4 separate regions of the Homo sapiens genome follow, and regions 1, 3 and 4 are each linked to region 2. Evidence: fine-mapped expression QTL. A gene starts in region 2. Each other region holds a variant in brackets. All regions are shown on one strand. Distances are between the middles of the regions.

Evidence for each region.
Region 1: its variant is fine-mapped to the expression of NECTIN2 in gastroesophageal junction (GTEx, PIP 0.98).
Region 3: its variant is fine-mapped to the expression of NECTIN2 in lung (TOPMed, PIP above 0.99). The same link has a PIP of 0.9 or more in sun-exposed skin and unexposed skin.
Region 4: its variant is fine-mapped to the expression of NECTIN2 in whole blood (TOPMed, PIP above 0.99). The same link has a PIP of 0.9 or more in blood mononuclear cells and lung.

What each region holds. Positions count from the first base shown.
Region 1 is chr19:44,763,518-44,769,720 of GRCh38, forward strand. It overlaps the pseudogene LOC124900431. Among named protein-coding and RNA genes, the nearest start is that of MIR8085, 8.0 kb to the left of the region's middle. The variant G/A (reference allele first, on the strand shown) is at 3,368.
Region 2 is chr19:44,842,153-44,848,165 of GRCh38, forward strand. It overlaps NECTIN2 (nectin cell adhesion molecule 2), which reads left to right and starts at 4,145. Exons shown (of 9, transcript NM_001042724.2): 1 at 4,145-4,461. The coding sequence starts at 4,374. RefSeq lists silencers at 2,509-2,908, 3,776-3,825, 3,906-3,985, 4,116-4,215 and an enhancer at 5,855-6,013.
Region 3 is chr19:44,876,597-44,880,596 of GRCh38, forward strand. All of the region lies in intron 5 of NECTIN2 (nectin cell adhesion molecule 2), which reads left to right. Among named protein-coding and RNA genes, the nearest start is that of TOMM40, 13 kb to the right of the region's middle. RefSeq lists enhancers at 2,290-3,139, 3,140-3,989, 3,990-4,000. The variant C/T (reference allele first, on the strand shown) is at 2,064.
Region 4 is chr19:44,867,174-44,871,173 of GRCh38, forward strand. All of the region lies in intron 2 of NECTIN2 (nectin cell adhesion molecule 2), which reads left to right. Among named protein-coding and RNA genes, the nearest start is that of TOMM40, 22 kb to the right of the region's middle. The variant A/G (reference allele first, on the strand shown) is at 1,899.

The DNA of each region.
Region 1 (6,203 bases), 79 kb before region 2:
AGGTGTGGTGGTGTGCACCTGTAATCCCAGCTACTCAGGAGGCTGAGGCAGGAGAATAGCTTGAACCCAGGAGGCAGGGGTTGCAGTGAGCCAAGATCACGTCACTGCACTCCAGCCTGGGAGACAAAGCGAGAGTCCGTCTCAAAAAAATAAAAAATAAGAAATAAAAAATCCTGTTGCTGCCATGCAAACTGCCACAAACTAGGTGGCTTAACACAACAGAAATGTATTCCTTTACAGTTCTGAAGTCCGGAAGTCCAAAATCAAGGCGTCGGCAGGACCGCACTCACCAAAAACTGTAGGGGAGACTCCTTCCTTGCCTCTTCCAGCTTCTGGTAGCCCCAAGCATTCCTCCGCTTCTGGCTGCATCAGTCCAGTCTCTGCCTCTGTCTTCACATGATCTTCTCCTTTGTGTGTCCATGTCTTCTTCTCTGTCTCTTATGAGGACATTTGTCACTGAGCACAGTGGCTCACACTTGCAATTCCAGCACTTTGGGGAAGGCAAGGTGGGAGGATCACTTGAGGCCAGGAGTTCAAGACCAGCCCAGACAACATAGCAACACCCTGTCTTGAAGGGAAGGGAAGGGGAGGGGAAGGGAGGAAAGAGGGAGAGGAAGGAAGGAAGGAAGGAAGGAAGGAAGGAAGGAAGGAAGCAAGCGAGGGAGGGAGGGAGGGAGAGATTATTTCTATGTTTCCTGGTCAACATAGTGAGACGCTGTCTCTACAGAAGATCAAAAAATGTGTTGGCTGAGCATGAGCCTGGTGGTGTGTGCCTGCAGTCCCAGCTACTTAGGAGGCTGAGGTTCAAGCATCACTTTAGCCCGGGATGTCAAGGCTGCAGTGAACTATGATCACGCCACTGCATTCCAGCCTGGGTGCCAGAGGGAGATCCTGTCTCTTGTTTTGTTTTGTTTTGTTTTGTTTTGTTTTGTTTTGTTGTTACTAAGTCTCACTCTGCTGCACAGGCTGGAGGAGTGCAGTGGTGCAATCTCTGCTCACTGCAATCTCCGTCTCCCAGGTTCAAGCAATTCTCCTGCCTCAGCCTCCCAAGTAGCTGGAATTACAGGCATGCATCATCATGCCCAGCTAATTTTTAATTTTATTTATTTATTTATTTATTTGAGATGAAGTCTCGCTCTGTCGCCCAGGCTGGAGTGCAGCGGCGCAATCTCAGCTCACTACAAGCTCCACCTCCCGGGTTCACGCCATTCTCCTGCCTCAGCCTCCCGAGTAGCTGGGACTACAGGCACCCGCCACCACATCCAGTTAATTTTTTGTATTTTTAGTAGAGACAGGGTTTCACCATGTTGGTCAGGCTGGTCTCAAACTCCCGACCCCAGGAGATCCTCCTGGCTCAGCCTCCCAGAGTGCTGGGATTACAGGCATGAGCCACCGCACCCAGCCAATATTTATGTTTAATCCTTAGAGCAACTTGCAGGTTTGCTCCAAGGTTTAAACATGAACACTAGTCAAGCTAATTGTGCTCCTCTCCTCCTATGCAGTGGCGGCAAACAGCAGTGCCCTCAGTAGTATACGCAGCCTGCTGCGTGTAGCGGTGGCCTTAAGAGACCTTGGAGATAGCCCTTTCCGATGCATGTTCATGTTTCTGATCTTGACCTCACCCCAGTCTAGACTCCAGACAGGTATGCGAGGCGCCTTTGGAAAGCCCCAGGGTGTGGTGGCCAGGGTTCACATTGGCTAAGGCATCACGTCCATCCGCACCAAGCTGCAGAACATGGAACACGTGATTGAGGCCCTACCCAGGGCCAAGTTCAAGCTCCCTGGCCACCAGAAGACCCACATCTCAAGGCGGTGGGACTTTACCAAGTTTAGTGCAGATGAATGTGAAGACACGGTGGCTGAGAAGTAGCTCATCCTGGATGGCTGTGGCATCAGATACATCCCCAATCATAGGCCCCTGGAATAGTGGCGAGCCCTGCTTACTCACACCCACCAATAAATCCTCCTTCCTGTCCAAACCGAAAAAAAAAAAATATGAACGGGACACAGTGGCTCACGCCTGTAATCCTAGCACTTTGGGAGCTGGAGGTGGGCAGATCGATTGAGCCCAGGAGTTCAAGACAAGCCTGGGCAATATGGTGAAACCCTGTCTCTCCAAAAAAAAAACAAAAATTAGCCGGTATGGTGGTGCACGCCTGTAGTCCCACCCACTGGGGAGGCCGAGGTGGCAGGATCACTTGAGCCTAAGAGGTCAAGGCCGCAGTGAATCAAGATTGCGCCACTGCATTCCAGCCTGGGTGACAGAGAGAGACCTTGTCTCAAAAAAGGAAAAAGGTGGGGGGAAGTAAATTTTGTGCAATACTTATTACAGGCCATGGTGCTGAGTAAGAGCTTCATAAATGGGAATTGCTGTTGCCATCATCTAAGAATTTTTGACAGTTTTGAGGTCAGAGGAAACACAGTAGAGACGATGAGACCTATTCTTTGTCCTGGTAGAAAAATGGAACAATGAGGTCATAGCCTAGATGTGTGTTTTAGCTACATTTTTTTTATTCCACGGTTGTAATTAAATTAAATAATATAGCTGGGCATGGTGGCACACACCTGTAGTCATAGCTACTCGGGAGGGAGGCTGAGGCATGAGGATCACTTGAGCCCAGGAGTTTGAGACCAGCCTGGGCAATGTAGTGAGACCCCATCTCTTGAAAGAGTGAAGTGACTCGCATCTGTAATTCCAGCACTTTTGGAGGCCAAGGCAGGAGAATTGCTTGAGCCCAGGAGTTTGAGATCAGCCTGGGCCACATAGCAAGATCCTCTCTCTACAATAAAAAAAAAAAAATTATATTAGGTGCCTGTGGTCCTAGCTATTCAAAGGCTGAGGCAGGGTGCAGTGGCTCACGCCTGTAATCCCAGAAGTTTGGGAGGCCGAGACAGGCGGATCACAAGGTCAGGAGATCCAGATCATCCTGGCTAACATGGTGAAACCCCGTCTCTACTAAAAATACAAAAACAAAATTAGCGAGGCGTGGTGGCAGGCACCTGTAGTCCCAGCTACTCGGGAGGCTGAGGCGGGAGAATGGGGTGAACCTGGGAGGCGGAGCTTGCGGTGAGCTGAGATCGCACCACTGCACTCCAGCCTGGGTGACAGAGGAGACTCCATCTCAAAAAAAAAAAAAAAAAAGGCCGAGAGGAGTTTGAAGCTGCAATGAGCTATGATTGCACCACTGCACTCCAGCCTAGACAACAGAGAGAGACCCTATCTTTAAAAAATATATAAAACAAAGAGCCTGAGTAACATGGCAAAAGCCTGGGTAACATGGCGAAACCCTATCTCTACAAAAAAAAACGCAAAAATTAACCAGGCATGGTAGCGTGCATCTGTAGTCCCAGCTACTCAGGAGGCTGA[G/A]GTAGGAGGACCACTTGACACCGAGAGGTCAGGGCTACAGTGACCTATGACTGCACCACTATGCTCCAGCCTGGGTGACAGAGTGAGACCCTGTCTTTAAAAATATAATAAATAAAAGAAGAAATATAGTAGCTTTTTTTTTTTTGAGACAGAGTCTTGCTCTGTCACCCAGGTTGGAGTGCAGTGGCAAAATCTCAGTTCACTGCAACCTCTGCCTCCCAGGTTCAAGCGATTCTCCTGCCTCAGCCTCCCGAGTAGCTGGGATTACAGGAGCCTGCCACCACGCCCGGCTAATTTTTGTATTTTTAGTAGTGATGGAGTTTCGCCATGTTGGTCAGGCTGGTCTTGAACTCCCGACCTCAGGTGATCACCCACCTTGGCCTCCCAAAGTGCTGGGATTACAGGCATGAGCTACCACGTCCACCCAATAGTAGCTTAAATAAGATGAAAGTCTATTTTTCTCTCATGTAAAGGCCCAGCGAACACCCGCATCTAGAATAGTAGCCAAGGATGTCAGAGATCGAGGCTCCTTCTACCTGGTTGTTCTGCTGCCCTCACCTCACACTTCCATTGTGTGGTCCAAAATGGCTGCTCCAGCTCCCACCATCACATCCACATTCCAACCACTGGGAAGAAGAAACAAAAGTCAATCGCATGCCCCTACCTTTAAAGCTACAACCCAGAAGTCATACACATCATACACATCACATCCTATTTGGCCAGAATTTAGTCACATGACCACACCTATCACAACAGAGGCTGGGAAATGTGGTTTTATCTGGGCAGCATGTACCCAGCCAAAATTCAGGGGTTCTGCTACAAAAGGAAGAGGAGAGAATGGTTATTGAGGGGCCGCACATGTATCTGTCACAACCAGGGCTCTGCCACCAAATGACTAAATGACTCAAGGTGAAGTGACTTCACCACACTGAGCCTCAGTTTCCTCACCTGTAAGAAGGGAATCCCCCCGACCCCTTGGGGTTGATGGGTTGTTGGGCATTTAATGAGAGTGTGAGTGTCAGGCACTTAGCCCAGGACCTGGCCCATCATCAGTCTGGAGTGTGTTGGAAGTCCTCTTGTGCTTGTGGGTCTAGGCTGTGGGTGATGTGGCTTTTCGTGTATGAGAAACCGTCCCGGGGCTTGAGAGCTGAACCCAGCACTGAACTTTATAAGTAACTTCTCTAAAACAAGGGATCTGGCCTCTGTACACATGGAAATCCCCACTCAGCCTCCTAGACCTTGGGACTAGGCACATGTCCTTCCACAGTCTTCCCCCTTCCGCTGGAGAAAGGCAGACTCCAAAGATGGAGGAAGGGTCCTGCTTGGGGTCTCCAGCCTCCCAGCCTTCACAGAATTAAGCACTCATAGCCTGGCCAACATGGTGAAACCCCGTCTGTTCTAAAAATACAAAAATGTGCTGGATATGGTGGCACACATCTGTAGTCCCAGCTACTAGGGAGACTGAAGTGGGAGGATTGCTTGAACCTGGGAGGGGGAGGTTGCAGTGAGCCAAGATCGTGCCACTGCACTCCAGCCTGGGTGACAGAAAAATAATAATAATAATTCAATCACTCACCCCTCAACTTCCAAAGCTCCTCATGGGTGACAGTCCCAGCATTCCGGGGACAGCTCTAACGCCAGAAGTCATACCTTCAATGCATTTCTCGGGGCTCCACTCGCTTGTCCTCACCACATTGAGTAAACCCAGAAAGACAGAGGACATCTCTCCTAGATGCGTGTGTGAAATCTGCCAGATTCTAAATGCCTGGGACATTCCAAAAAGTGACTTTAAGAGCATTGGCCGGGCACAGTGGCTCACACCTGTAATCCCAACCCTTTGGGAGGCTGAGGTGGGAGGACAGACTGAGCCCTGGAGTTCAAGACCATCCTGGGCAACATGGGTAGACCCCGGCTCTAACCCCGAACATGGTGGCACGTGCCTGCAGTCCCAGATACTCAGAAGGCTGAGGTGGGAGGATCGCTTAAGCCCAGGAGGTTGAGGCTGCAGTGAGCTGTGACCATGCCACTGCACTCCAGCCTGAGTGACAGCGAGAGACTTTGCCTCAAACACACACACACAGAGTCAGGGGACGGTGGCTTACACCTGTAATCCCAGCACTTTGGGAGGCCAAGGTGAGTGGATTGGCCAGGAGTTCAAGACCAGCCTGGGCAACATGGCAAAATCCCATCTCTACAAAAATTAGCCAGGTATGGTGGCACCCACCAACTTGAGAGGCTGAGGTAGAAGGATTGCTTGAACCCAGAGGCAGAGGTTGCAGTGAGCTGTGATTCAGCCACTGCACTCCAGCCTGGGCGACAGAGGGAGACTGTCTCAAAAAACAAAAAGAAAAAAAAAGAGTGTGAGAGGTAAACAGAACACATCTTTTCTTTTTTTCATTGTTTGTTTGTTTTTTGAGACGGAGTCTCGCTCTGTCGCCCAGGCTGGAGTGCAGTGGCGTGATCTCAGCTCACTGCAAGCTCCGCCTCCTGGGTTCATGCCATTCCCCTGCCTCAGCCTCCCAAGTAGCTGGGACTACAGGCGCCCGCCACCACGCCCGGATAATTTTTTATATTTTTAGTAGAGATGGGGTTTCACCGTGTTAGCCAGGATGGTCTCGATCTCCTGACTTCATGATCCGCCCGCCTCGGCCTCCCAAAGTGCTGGGATTATAGGCATGAGCCACCGCGCAGCCGAACACATCTGTTCTTTAAGTGTGTTTTCAGACCTTCACATAAGCCAGACTTTTACTTTATAGAAAGGGAAACTGTGGCCCAGGGATGGAAGAGACTGACTTGGTGAATCGATAGGTCTGGGATTCCATGATTCACCATAACC
Region 2 (6,013 bases):
TATTGCCAGGCGCGATGGCTCACACCTGTAATCCCAGCACTTTGGGAGGCTGAGGTGAGAGGATCACTTGAGGGCAGGAGTTCAAGACCAGCCTGGGCAACAAAGCGAGAATCAAATTCTACAAAACATTTAAAAATGCACCGAGCAGCCGGGCACAGTGGCTCACGCCTGTAATCCCAGCACTTTGGGAGGCCGAGGCAGGTGGAGCACGAGGTCAGGAGATCGAGACCATCCTGGCTAAGACCATGAAACCTCGTCTCTACTAAAAATACAAAAAATCAGCTGGGCGTGGTGGCAGGCACCTGTAGTCCCAGCTACTCGAGAGGCTGAGGCAGGAGAATGGCATGAACCTGGGAGGCGGAGCTTGCACTGAGCCAAGATCGCGCCACTGCACTCCAGCCTGGGCGACAGAGCAGAGACTGTCTCAAAAAAAAAAAATGCACCGAGCATAGTGGCACATGCCTGTAGTCCCAGCTACTCAGGAGGCTGAGGCAGAGGATCCCTTGGGCTGGGAAGTTTGAGGTTAGAGGGAGCCAAGATCTGCACTCCAACCTGGGCGACAAAGCACAACCCTGCCTCAAAATTAAATACATAAATAAATTAAGCACATTTATTTATTTTACTGTTTTATTTTATTATTATATATATTTTAAGAGACGGGGCTCTACCATGTTGCCAGGCGTGTCTTGAACCCCTAAATTCAAGTGATCTGCCAGCCTTGGCCTCCCAAAGTGCTGGGATTGCAGACATGAGCCACTGCGCAAGGCCTATTTGTGTATTTATTTATTTTAGAGACAAAATCTCTCTGTCTCCCAGGCTGGAGTGCAGTGGCTCAATCACAGCTCACTGCAGCCTCAACCTCCCTGGGCTCAGGTGATCCTCCCACCTCGGCCTCCCGAGTAGCTGTAGCTGCTATGCATTTATTATGTGTGCGCCTATTTGTCCAGCCATCCTCACACCCAGTTTGTGCCAAGCCTGAGACACAAGCTATCTGGAGCTCACATGGCATGGAGGTTAAAAGCACAGACTGGCCGGGTGCAGTAGCTCACCCCTGTAATCCCAGCACTTTGGGAGGCTAATGCAGGCAGATCACAAGGTCAGGAGTTCGAGACCAGCCTGACCAACATGGTGAAAGCCCGTCACTACTAAAAATACAAAAATTAGCCGGGCGTGGTGGTGCGTGCCTGTAATCCCAGCTACTCAGGAGGCTGAGGCAGGAGAATCACTCAAACCTGGGGGGCGGAGGTTGCAGCGAGCCGAGATTGATTGCGCCACTGCACTCCAGCCTTGGCAACAGAGCCAGACTCCGTCTCAAAAACAAAAAGAGCACAGACCATCCGGGCCCAAAAGAAGCACCCGGCCTGCTATGTGTCTTTGCTGGGTGGCTTGGGGCAAACAACCACCCTGTGCCTCAGTTTACTTTTCAGTGAAATGGGGATCACCATGGTGTCCCCTTCATGGGATCCCTGTGAGGAACTAACTAAGAGAAATAAGGTGCTTAGAAGAGTCAGCTCTGGCTCTGCCATTTTGTTTATTTTTATTTATTTTTAATTTCTATTTTATTTTATGTTTTTCAGACTGAGTCTCACTCTGTTGCCCAGGCTGGAGTGCAGTGGTGCGATCTCGGCTCACTGCAACCTCCAACTCCCGGGTTCAAGCGATTCTCCTGCCTCAGCCTCCCAAGTAGAGACAGGGTTTCACCATGTCGGCCAGGCTGGTCTCGAACTCCTGAACTCAAGTGATCCACCCGCCTCAGCCTCCCAAAGTGCTGGGATTACAGGCGTCAGCCAGGGCGCCCCGCCCTGGCTCTGCCATTTTGTAACTCAGTGAGTCACTTCATCTCTCTGCTTCAGTTTCCCTATCGCCCATGGCGCTGCATGGCTTACATGAGATAATATTCGCAGTGCACTTAGATCAGTGCCTGGCACACGGTAAGTGCTGACTACATGTATTAACAGTATCGTAAGTGCCGGGCGCGGTGGCTCACACCTGCAATCCCAGCATTTTGGGAGGCTGAAGCGGGTGGATCAGGAGGTCAGGAGTTTGAGACCAGCCTGACCAACATGGTGAAACCCCGTCTCTACTAAAAATACAAAAATTAGCCGGGCGTGGTGGCGCGCGCCTGTAATCCCAGCTACTCAGGAGGCTGACTCAGGAGAATCGCTTGAACCCAGGAGGCAGAGGTTGCAGTGAGCCGAGATCGCGCCACTGCCCTCCAGCCTGGGCGACAGAGCGAGACTCCGTCTCAAAGAAAAAAAAAAAAAAAGGATCATAACTAAGACTCGAATGCGGAGGGATAACAGCCTCTGCTACTTGAAACCTAGTCCTTCTGGGGAGGAAAGCCCAGGTGTGTGGCAGGTGGAAGGGAGGGCGAGCCTAGGTGGTCCTCTTGCTAGGGCAAGAAGCCCCCAAGCACCTGCCCCCAGCTGAGCAGCTCCGCGCCTCCTGGCCCTGGACGAACTTGGGCCCAGACTGGCGCTCCGTGGCACCCCCTCCCCCGGCCTCCCGCTTCGCGCCCTCATCCCGCCCCCCGGCGCGGCCTCACCAGCTCCCCCTGGGCAGCCCAAAGAATGCGAAGAGGTAGGTGGGGGTAGGGAGGAGGGCGAGCCGCTGGGAGAGACAAAGGGCCCGAGTCTGAGCGAGAGACACAAAGACGCGAGGAGGCTGGGGAGATAGGGGAAGTGGGACAAGGACGCGGGGAGTGACCAGGTCCGGAGGCCGGACTGGAGCCCAGCCCCACCCAGCCCGGCCGGGCCAGCGCAGCGCGGGGGCCGGTCTCTGCTGCCCCCTGGCGGGTGGCTGCGGTGAGAAGGCGGCGCGGAGCAGGTGTTGGGAGGGGAGGACCAGGGCGCGCAGGGAGGTAGGGAGGGAAGGAAGCAGAGAACAGAGCAGGGACAGAGAGACAGCGAGAGAGACTCGCACGCAGAGACAAGAGACGCCGAGAGGGAGACACAGAGAAAGAGACAGGGACAGAGAGACACAGATAGAGACAGAGAGAGACACACGGAGAGACAGAGACAGAGAAGCACAGAGATAGAGAGGCACAGAGATAGAGACAGAGAAACACAGAGACAGAGAGGCACACAGAGACAGAGAGGCACAGAGACAGGCCGATAGAGACAGAGATACACAGAAATAGAGACAGAGACAGAGAGGCACACAGATAGAGACAGAGAGACACAGAGACAGAGTCAAAGGATGGAAAGAGACATGGGGACCAAGTGACCCAGAAACAGTGACAGACAGGCCGGGCTTGGTGGCTCACGCCTGTAATCCCAGCATCTTGGGAGGCCGAGCCGGGAGGATCGCTTGAGGCCAGCCTCAGCAACATAGTGAGACCCCGCCGCCCCCCCGCCCCGTCTCTTTTATTGAAATAAAGAAACAGTGACTGACAAAGGAAGACCAGAAACAGAGCGACACCGAAGCATGAGGACGGAAAGACCCAGAGAGGCAGAAATACAGGGACAGAGAGGAAGACCCAAAGAGAGTGAGAGAGACACAAAGACACGTAAGAGAGACAGAGAAATCCAGAAAGAAACGAGTGCAGCGACACCTAGAGTTCGGGGCAGAGATTAGAAACGCACGAGGGTACGAGAAACAGGCTCAGGGCGATGGGCTCGACCTGCGGGGAGGTCGCACAACCGGGACGTGCTGGGGGCAGAACCGTAAAGCCCCACGTGCCTCAGGCAACTGTGATGAGAGGACCCGGGCAGGCAGGAAAGGGCAGGATTCGAACTGTGGGTGGGACAGAGGCCAGGACGGACTGAGCTAAGAGACCGAGAGAACTCCGGCTAGGGCGAGGGGCGGGGCTGGTGGAGGCGGGGCTGGTGGGGGCGGAGTCGGCCGGAAGGGCCGAAAGGGGCGTGGCAAGACCTTGGCGAGGCGGCCGGTAGGCAGGGGGCGGGGCGTGGGAACTACTCGGGAGCAGAGGGGGCGTGGCTAGACCTTAGGGGGCGTGGTTTAACGCCGGGAGCGAAGGAGACAGAATTCTTTGGCAGGGGCGACCTTAGAATCCTGGGGAGGAGCGAGAATGGAATCCCGGGGAGGAACAGGGGTGGAATCCGGGGGGCGGGGTCAGAACGCCAGGAGGGGGCGGGGCCGGAGCCAGGGTCGGCTTGACTCGGGGGAGCAGCGGGTGGATCCTGTGACGTCAGCGGGTTCGAACCGCCGGAGCTGAGCGAGAGGCCGGGGGTGCCGAGCCGGGCGGGGAGAGCTGGGCCGGGAGAGCAGAACAGGGAGGCTAGAGCGCAGCGGGAACCGGCCCGGAGCCGGAGCCGGAGCCCCACAGGCACCTACTAAACCGCCCAGCCGATCGGCCCCCACAGAGTGGCCCGCGGGCCTCCGGCCGGGCCCAGTCCCCTCCCGGGCCCTCCATGGCCCGGGCCGCTGCCCTCCTGCCGTCGAGATCGCCGCCGACGCCGCTGCTGTGGCCGCTGCTGCTGCTGCTGCTCCTGGAAACCGGTGAGACGAGCGGACGGCCCCCTGCCCTCGCGCGGACCCCCTCCAACCTTACCTTCCGAGCTGGGGAAGCCGAGCACCTTCCCCGCCCACCCCCGGCTCCCCGAGCCCCCTCTCGCGTGCCCCCTTCCTGGCTGGCCCCACAGACTCCGACCCCCTACACGTCCGATTCTCTCGAGGAGACTCTGACCCCTCCTTTCTGCATCTCTCTCACCACCACCCCCATCCTTCTTAATCCAATTGCCCATCCTACGCCTGCTTGTCTGTCCCCCTCCCCATTTCTCGGATTCCCGCGCCGAAAGGGTTAAATCCCAGGAAGGCCTGGTGCCCCCTCCCCACCCCGCGCCGAGTAGTTCACCCGGATCTGGGTCTCTGTCTCCTCTACCCCTCTCAGGAATGTGGGGAATGTTCCCCCCACCTACCGCAGTAAGGTCTCGAGGAAGAGGCGAGACCACCTCCCTCCCCTATTTTTCCTTCTTCCCGGCTTGGGCGTCTGAGGCCCGGAGAGAACTGAGGACAAGCGGACCTGATTCGGGTCCCTTGGAGGGCTAAGGATAAGAGTTCTGGCGACTTAGGGGGAAGGGCCTGAGCTCGGAGCTCCAACCCCGAACCTCAGGGAGTTGGGGGTTCTGACTCCGTGGACTCCAGAAAAATTAGGGGCCGGGGGCTCCGTCTTCAGGGTCCCTGGTAGAATGGAGGCTAGGCGCTAAGTCTAACTGGGATCTAGGTAAAACTGGGGGCGAGAGAGGATCAAACTTGTAGCTTCTGGATTTAATTGTGGGCAGGGGGCTTCGTTTTCAGGGTTCCCGGCAGAACCGGGGGACAGGAGACTCGATCTCGTGGGCTTCAGACTTAATTGTAGGCAGAGGAACGTCTTCTGAGATCCAAACAGAAGTGCGAGCAGCGGGCCCCGTCTCTTGGGCTCCAGATATGATCAAGGGTCGAAGGCTCTGTCTTGAGGCTGGAGTCTCAGTCGCCTGAGTCCCAGATAGAACGGGAGGCCCCGAGTCCCAGAGGCTGGGAGACTCCTCCCTTTCCCTATGAATGGTCGGGGGCGACGGAGACGTCGCCGGGGAAGTTTTCCTGGTTTCACTCTCGCCGAGCCAGGGAGGGGCGGGGCGGGCGCTCCTGGCTCCGGGTTCCGGACTCCCCGGTTTCGGGACCTTATCTATCCTCTGGTAGCGCCTTTGTCCTCAGAGCCATAGCAGGAGGTGGACGAGTGGAGCCGCCGCCCTTATCCCCCGTCCCTCCCATTGCTATGCCTTGGACCCCCTGGCGTCCTTCCATCCACCCCACTAGGGGAGGAGAGCGGCCCCCCTGGGGAGGGAGGGGCTGGGAGGGAACCCTTGAAAGAGGCGCTGGCCCCGCCCCTTGCAGGTGACCCGGTTGTGTATTCCCAGCGACAAACTCTGGGATGCTAGAGTTTCCCGAGGGTTTGCGCAGAAGAGAGCTCAGGGGGATCTTGGGGGAACCCCGGCCACCTCTCTGGCCTCATTTCCCCCAGGATGGCTCTCACTGGCCTCCCAGCTTTGACCCAGAGCTGGGAACTCCGCTT
Region 3 (4,000 bases), 33 kb after region 2:
GGTCACTCTCAGAGGGTCTCTGAGCCACGAACCCACATCCAGGCACACACAGAGTCGTCACAGAGACACAGTATGGAGTCCACAGCAGCACGAACATAGGATACGAACGCCGCACCACAGGACAGATCTATCTTTAGGGAGACTCAGAGAACTTTTTATTTTTAATAGAGACAGGGTCTCGCTATGTTGGCCAGGCTGGTCTTGAACTCCTGGCCTCAAAGCATTCCTCCAGCTTTGGCCTCCCAAAGTGCTGGGATTACAGGTATGAGCCAGCACACTAAGCCTGATTCAGAGCTTTGAACCCTAGACATATGAACAGACTCAGCTTCGAGTTCCAAAACACCAATGCCACCTCCAGAAACAGAGACAAGCCTCCCAAGATAGGCTCAACCTGGTCCAGTTAGTGACCAGCACAGGAGAAAAATCTGTTTCACTCCTCAACCCAGTGTATAGTTAGAGACATATATACCACCCTACCCCCTACCAAAAAAGATTTTATCCTCCTTTTTTTAATGCTATTTGTGAGTCACTAAGCTGATTTGACAGCCCGCTGGGTCATGACCCCCTGTTTGAAAACAACAGAAACAGATGTCCTTCCTGGGTCTCAGCCCCTCCTGTGTGTCGAGGTGTAGAGGTGGGGTCAGGTGTGGGTGAACCCCCCACCCCCGTCTGTCCCAGTTATGCCTTGCATGCAGGGATGGGGGAAGTGGATGTGGGTAGGTTCTGGTTACATTGACTTCTGTCCCTGGCTTGGGGCCCAGGAGCCCCATCCCTCCCTGCTCACACTGCCCTCCTCAGCACTTCATGGCTTCCTCTCTCTCTCCGCCTCCCCACTACCTCCCATCCCCCATCCCCACCTGCTCAGCCCCTGCAGGGAGCACTAAGGAAGTCCCACTGTCCCGGTCTGTGAGAACCCCATTTTACACACTGGGGATAAGTGGCCTAGAGATGAGGCAGCCACGGCACTTGGAATAAATGCTCCCAGCCACTCAAGAGGGCAGAATTATCAGGAATCTGTGGCCCTCTGCAGAGAGCTTTGGGATCAGACAGCCTCCCACTGAAACCCAGCTGTCCTCCCCCGAGGGGGTGTGGCCCCCAAGCTCATAGCTTTGTGAGGACCCCACAGCACATTCAGGGAGGGCTGCGAAGTCAGATGGCACCAGGGTCCTGGCCAGTGACCGGGCGGCCAGATCTATTGCATCCAAATAGCCAGCTTCCACTCGGCTACGGCGATCGCCAGACATGGGAGTTTGGTGTTGCTAGATCTGATTTGTCCCCCTAAGAGAAACCTGGATTTTTAAGTGAAATCGCCTGATTTTTGAAAGGTTGGCTAGCAATTTAAATTTTGCAAAACACTAACACCTGGGGACCACCGGTTGGCATCCCCCTCCTTGTACAAAGTGGTGCTCAGGCTGTAGCGAAGGGCGGAGGGGCTTCTGCTTCCCCACCCCCCTCCTCCTCCTCCTCCATTCTTCTGCCCAGAGTCACCCCCTCATTCTGGTCACTCCCGCTCCCTCCATCCCCGCCTATCCTGCATCTCCCCCACCCCCTCACTCCCCAGAGCGATCCTCGTGATCTTGTGTCTCCCTTTCTCTCTCTCTCACCCCTCCTTCTCTCTCTCCTCAGAAACCCCCAGGGCCTCGCCCCGAGATGTGGGCCCGCTGGTGTGGGGGGCCGTGGGGGGGACACTGCTGGTGCTGCTGCTTCTGGCTGGGGGGTCCTTGGCCTTCATCCTGCTGAGGGTGAGGAGGAGGAGGAAGAGCCCTGGAGGAGCAGGAGGAGGAGCCAGTGGCGACGGGGGATTCTACGATCCGAAAGCTCAGGTGTTGGGAAATGGGGACCCCGTCTTCTGGACACCAGTAGTCCCTGGTCCCATGGAACCAGATGGCAAGGATGAGGAGGAGGAGGAGGAGGAAGAGAAGGCAGAGAAAGGCCTCATGTTGCCTCCACCCCCAGCACTCGAGGATGACATGGAGTCCCAGCTGGACGGCTCCCTCATCTCACGGCGGGCAGTTTATGTGTGACCTGGACACAGACAGAGACAGAGCCAGGCCCGGCCCTCC[C/T]GCCCCCGACCTGACCACGCCGGCCTAGGGTTCCAGACTGGTTGGACTTGTTCGTCTGGACGACACTGGAGTGGAACACTGCCTCCCACTTTCTTGGGACTTGGAGGGAGGTGGAACAGCACACTGGACTTCTCCCGTCTCTAGGGCTGCATGGGGAGCCCGGGGAGCTGAGTAGTGGGGATCCAGAGAGGACCCCCGCCCCCAGAGACTTGGTTTTGGCTCCAGCCTTCCCCTGGCCCCGTGACACTCAGGAGTTAATAAATGCCTTGGAGGAAAACATCAGGGGTGTCTTGTAATACATCAGACCCCCTCCTTGCATGTTGGGGAAAGAGAGGGTGGGACAGGGACTCCTAGGTCCCAGGGCTGGGAAGAGCTGATCCACGCCCCCGGGGAACGAGAGCCTGGCAGGGGTTAGACTGGGGAAGGCTGTGGGGCTCGGACCACTTGGATCCTTGAAAGACGCATTGGATGGCCGAGAACCGCAAGGCTCGTGCAACTAGGATTCAGGTCACTGGATTGGGGACTCAGAGGCCTGGACATTTGGACTCCTGGGTCCCAGGACAGAGGCTGCCTTTCTGGATGGTGTGGCCAGACCCATCAGAGGCAGGAGTTCTCTGGACTCCTGGGCCCTCGGGTGGAGGTGGGGGTGGGGACAGCAGGGGCTCAGCCAGGTTCCCTGCGTCCTGAGAGAATGAGGCCAGAGGGCTGTGATCCAGTGGAGCCTCAGACCTCAACTCCCCCAGGTTGCTGGGGGTCTCGGGAGGGGAGGGCTGCTCCCCACTCCCATTCTTAGGGGCCCTGAGGGCATGGGGCAGGCGGGGGGTGCTGGGGAAGTCCCACCTCTGGCCACCCCGACTGTGGCTCCCCTCCTTCTCCATCCTTGCCCCCAGGGATCACCCCAGGGGACTTTTCAGTGGCTCCCTGGGAGTGGCGGCAGCTCCCTCCAGCTCCTCTCAACTGGAAAAGCAAAGACGGGGGGAGGGGCGGCCCTTGGTCCTTGAACTCCCAGGCTCAGTAAGGGACAGGTTTTTACCCGCGTCACCTCTGCTCTCCCAAGCCTCCATGCCTCCTCTGTAACACGGGGCAGGTGTTTCCATCGGCCTCACAAGGCTGTCGTGGGACCCAGTAAGGACATGCCCGTGATGCCCTCATGCAGCCTCATTGACCTCCACAGACCCCACCAAGCCCTGTGCCAGGCAGTGCTGGGGCTGCAGCTGTGGCCTGCACAGACCCAGTGCCGTCCTCCGGTGTGCACGGCCATAATGACCACAAGAATAGCAGCAGTATGTTTAGGATGAAGGTGTGTGTGTGGACCGAGGGGCAGTCTCTCTCTCTCACTCCCCCACCCTCTGAAGCCCTCCAGAGGATGCCAGGCTGTGGAACGGGAGCAGTGGAGATCCAACAGTCCAGCGTCCTCTGGAAGCTTCCTCCTCATCTGGAGAGTGAGGCCGATGCATGCGTGACCCCCACGGGCCCTTCCATACTTGTTACTTCCTCTGGTTGTTTGTTGTCTGTACTCACCCACCCACCCCACCCGGACAACCGGAGGGCAGGGGCGGGGAATTGGGTCCGCCTGGCACACAGTGGATCCTTCAGTGCCATGCTGAGTCCTCCTTACACACCCAGCAAACACCTACTGTGTGCCGAACCTCAGGCACACAGTCTAGTATGGAAATTGGCAAGTAAACGGGTAACCACTCCAAAAACTCTTCCATTAGGAAAGACTTGAGAAATGGAAACGGGAGGTGCTAGCAAGGAAGGAGAGGCCCAGGAGCAAACAGGCTTCTCGCTTCTCGACCCCTTTTCCTGTCTTGCCTTTTTTTTTTTTTTTTTTTTTTTTTTTTTTGAGACGGTGTCTAGCTCTGTTACCCAGGCTGGAGTGCAGTGGTACGATCTCGGCTCACTGCACCCTCCACCTCCCAAGTTCAAGCAATTCT
Region 4 (4,000 bases), 24 kb after region 2:
ACACCTAGCTAAATTTTTTTGTATTTTTAGTAGAGACGGGGTTGCACCATGTTGGCCAGGCTGGTCTTGAACTCCCGACCTCAGGTGATCCGTCCACCTGGGCCTCTCAAAGTGCTGGGATTATAGGCATGAGCCACTGAGCCTGGCCAGGAAAGAAAAAAAAATTGTTTTAATTAACCAGGCTCAGTGACTTACCTGTAATTTCAGCTACTCGAGAGACTGAGGTGGGAGGATCACCTGAGCCCAGGAGGTTGAGGCTGCAGTGAGCTGTGATTGTGCTACTGCACTCCATCCTGGACAAGAGAGCGAGACCCTGTCTTAAAACAAGTCCAGTCCGGGCAGGAAGTAAAACGGCTTAGAAGTAGGGGACATAGTGGCCTCATTGAGATAGGATGTGCAGGGAAGGCGTCTTAGTCAAGTCCTGGAGTCTGAGAAGGAGCTACCTTTGGGCATAGCAGAGGGGCACGGGCACAGAAACCTGGGAGGTGGGCATGAGATGGGAGCTGGGCGCGTTCCAGGAATGGAAAGGGGGCTGGTGAGGATAGGCAAGGGCTTGGGTGACCCTCAGCGGGGCCACATTACACGGGCTTCACAGGTGGAGGCGAGGAGGCTGGACTATGCCCTCAGCATGGTTAAGAGCCATGGGAGGTGTCAAGCCACAGGAGAGATCTGGACAAACGTTTGAGGTTGCAAAAAATGACCGGCAGCAGTATGAGGAGTGATTGGAGGAGTGGACGGAGGTAGAAGGGAGCTGGGACGAGAGGGGAGAAGAGGCATTGCTGGGAAGACGGATGAGGCAGTGGGGGGCAGAGGGAAGCGGGCGGCATATAGTGGTGTTTTTAGAAGATAGTAGGTGCTGGGCTTGCCCATGGATTGAGGGGGAAGCAGGATCAGAGAGGAGTCCCAGGCCTGGTGCGGTGGCTCACGCCTGTAATCCCAGCACTTTAGGAGGCCAAGGTGGGCAGATCGCTTTGAGGTCAGGAGTTTCAGACCACTCTGGGCAACATGGTGAGGCCCCATCTCTACAAGAAAAAAAAAAATTAGCTGGGCATGGTAGCACACACCTGTAGTCCCAGCTACCCAAGAGGCTGAGGTGGGAGGATCGCTTGGGCCTGGGAAGCAGAGATTGCAAGTGAGCCAAGATTGCACCACTGCACTCCAGCACGAGACCCTGTCTCAAAAAAAAAAAAAAAAAAATAGGACTCCCAGCGGGAAGGTGACTGATACTTGGCAAAAATAGAGAAGGCAGGGAAGATTTTTTTTGAAGGATGCTTTTTTTTCTTTTCCTTTTTCTTTTTTTTTTTTTTTCTTTTTTTGAGACAAAGTCTCACTACATTGTCCAGGCTAGACTCGAACTCCTGGGCTCAGGGGATCCTCCTACCTCCGCCTCCTGCATAGCTGGGATTACAGGCATGAGTCACCACATCCAGCTACGAATGCTCTTTCTTTAAATCTTGAGGCTGGGCGTGGTGGCTCACTCCTGTAATCCCAGCACTTTGGGAGGCCGAGGCGGGCGGATCACGAGGTCAGGAAATCGAGACCATCCTGGCTAACACGGTGAAACCCCATCTCTACTAAAAATACAAGAAATTAGCCAGGCGTGGTGGCGGGTGCCTTAGTCCCAGCTACTCGGGAGATTGAGGCAGGAGAATGGCTTGAACCCGGGAGGCGGAGCTTGCAGTGAGCCGAGATCGCGCCACTATACTCCAGCCTGGGCGACAGAGTGAGACTCTGTCTGGAAAAAAAAAAAAATATGTTGGAAGTCCCCTGGGAGCCCACCTTCCCTAGGCAACTTCCCAGAAGCCACGTCACTCTGGATGCCTTTTCTTCCCCCTTCTCAGCCCAGAGCGTCTGAGAAGGTCACCCTGTGCTATCCTTGAGTAAACACTTCCCTTTCC[A/G]GTAACACATGAAACCACAGCCGTTTTCCATAATACAAAGGACAGCTCTTCTCCTCCCCACCCTCACAAACGCCTCTCTTCTTGTGCAATCATTTGTTCTCATCCAGAGATAACTTCAGGGCTGGGCACGGTGGCTCACACCTGTAATCCCAGCACTTTGGGAGGCTGAGAGGCAACAAGAGCAAAACTCTGTCTCAAAATAAATAAATAAATAATGAGACTCAGAAAATATGATTAAGGGCCAGGCGCAGTGGCTCACGCCTGTAATCCCAGCACTTTGGGAGGCCGAGGCAGGCGGATCACGAGGTCAGGAGATTGAGACCATCCTGGCTAACACGGTGAAACCCTGTCTCTACTAAAAATACAAAAAAATTAGCCGGGCGTGGTGGCGGGTGCCTGTAGTCCCAGCTACTTGGGAGGCTGAGGCAGGAGAATGGCATGAACCCAGGAGGCGGAGCTTGCAGTGAGCCGAGATCGCATCACTGCACTCCAGCCTGGGCGACAGAGCGAGACTCCATCTCAAAAAAAAAAAAAAAAAGAAAAGAAAATATGATTAAGTGTAGGGTTTAATCAAGCCCAAAGCTTGAGGATGACCACCTGGGAGCATAGATTGAAGTTGCCCTGAATATACACTTCAAGCAGGGGCCAAGGCAAGCAGCTCTTGCAAGTGAGCTTTTGTTTGTTTGTTTGTTTCTTGGAGAGAGGGTCTCCAAAACTACAAATAAAAATTAGCTAGGAATGGTGGCGCACACCTGTAATCCCAGCTACTCAGGAGGCTAAGGCAGGCGAATTGCTGAAACCAGCAAGGGCAGGTTGCAGTAAGCTGAGATTGCACCACTGCACTGCATCCTGGGTGACAGCAAGACTCTGTCTCAAATTAATAAAAAAAAAAGAGAGAGAGAGAGATAACCTCAAGAGCTTCCGTATACACACTGGTGCAGAAGTAAGGAACAAAACAGCCAAAGCCTCTGTCTTCATGATGCGTGAGCCACCAAGGAATAGTTGGCCAGAGTCGGCGGTCAGGAAAGTGCCCTTGACGAAGTGGGGCTTGGAGTGGGGTCTGGAGAAGGAGGCCAAAGCAATCCAGGCACAAAATCACCAACCAAAACCCCAAAGTGGGTGGAGGCAGAGACTGAGGAGGGCGTGGATGGGGAGCATGTGGAGTGGCCAGGGGAGGTGGCCATGGGGAAGTGGTGGGCTCGGGCCCTGAGTCACTATTCTAACAGCTTGGAGGGCGGCCAGGAGGATGTGGGGAGGCTTGTTGGATGCTCCACGATGGTCAGGGGAGAAGGCGGTGGGAAGGGAGAGCTGGGAAGAAGAGGAGAGTCAGACCGTGTTGAGAAGTTCAGAGGTGGATACCCAGGTCCAGAAAGCAACAGAAGATGTGAGTCTGGGTGGGGGACACACATCATAAGCATGAGCTGCTATTCTTCCTGGAGTTTTGTTTTTGTGATTTTTTTCCATGTTTTCCAAGAGAATGAGGTGGAAAGGGTATAAAAAAAAGAAACGGCTTTGAGATTTTCTGCCTTTATCACACTTCCAGTCATTCAATCATCTAATGGTGATTACAGGAAAAGGAACAGGGGGCCTTTCCAGCTGGACCTTTGAACCACAGTACTCAGTTACTCGCTCGGCCTTGATTTGCTTTTTTTTTTTCCTTTTTTTTTTTTTTCTTTTGGAGACAGAGTCTCACTGTCACCCAGGCTGGAGTGCAGTGGCACGATCTCGGCTCACTACAACCTCTGCCTCCCAGGTTCAAGCAATTCTCTTACCTCAGCCTCCCGAGTACCTGGGATTACAGGCACCTGCCACCACGCCCAGCTAATTTTTGCATTTTTAGTAGAGATGGGGTTTCACCACGTTGGCCACGCTAGTCTAGAACTCCTGACCTCAGGTGATCTGCCCACCTGGGCCTCCCAAAGTGCTGGGATTACAGGCATGAGCCACTGCGCCCATCCTAATTTTTGTATTTTCAGTAGAGATGAGTTTTCACCATGTTGGCCAGACTGGTCTCAAATTCCTGGCCTCAAGTGATCCACCCTCCTCAGCCTCCTAAAGTGCTGGTATTGCAGGTGTGAACCACCACGCCCGACCAGCTTTTT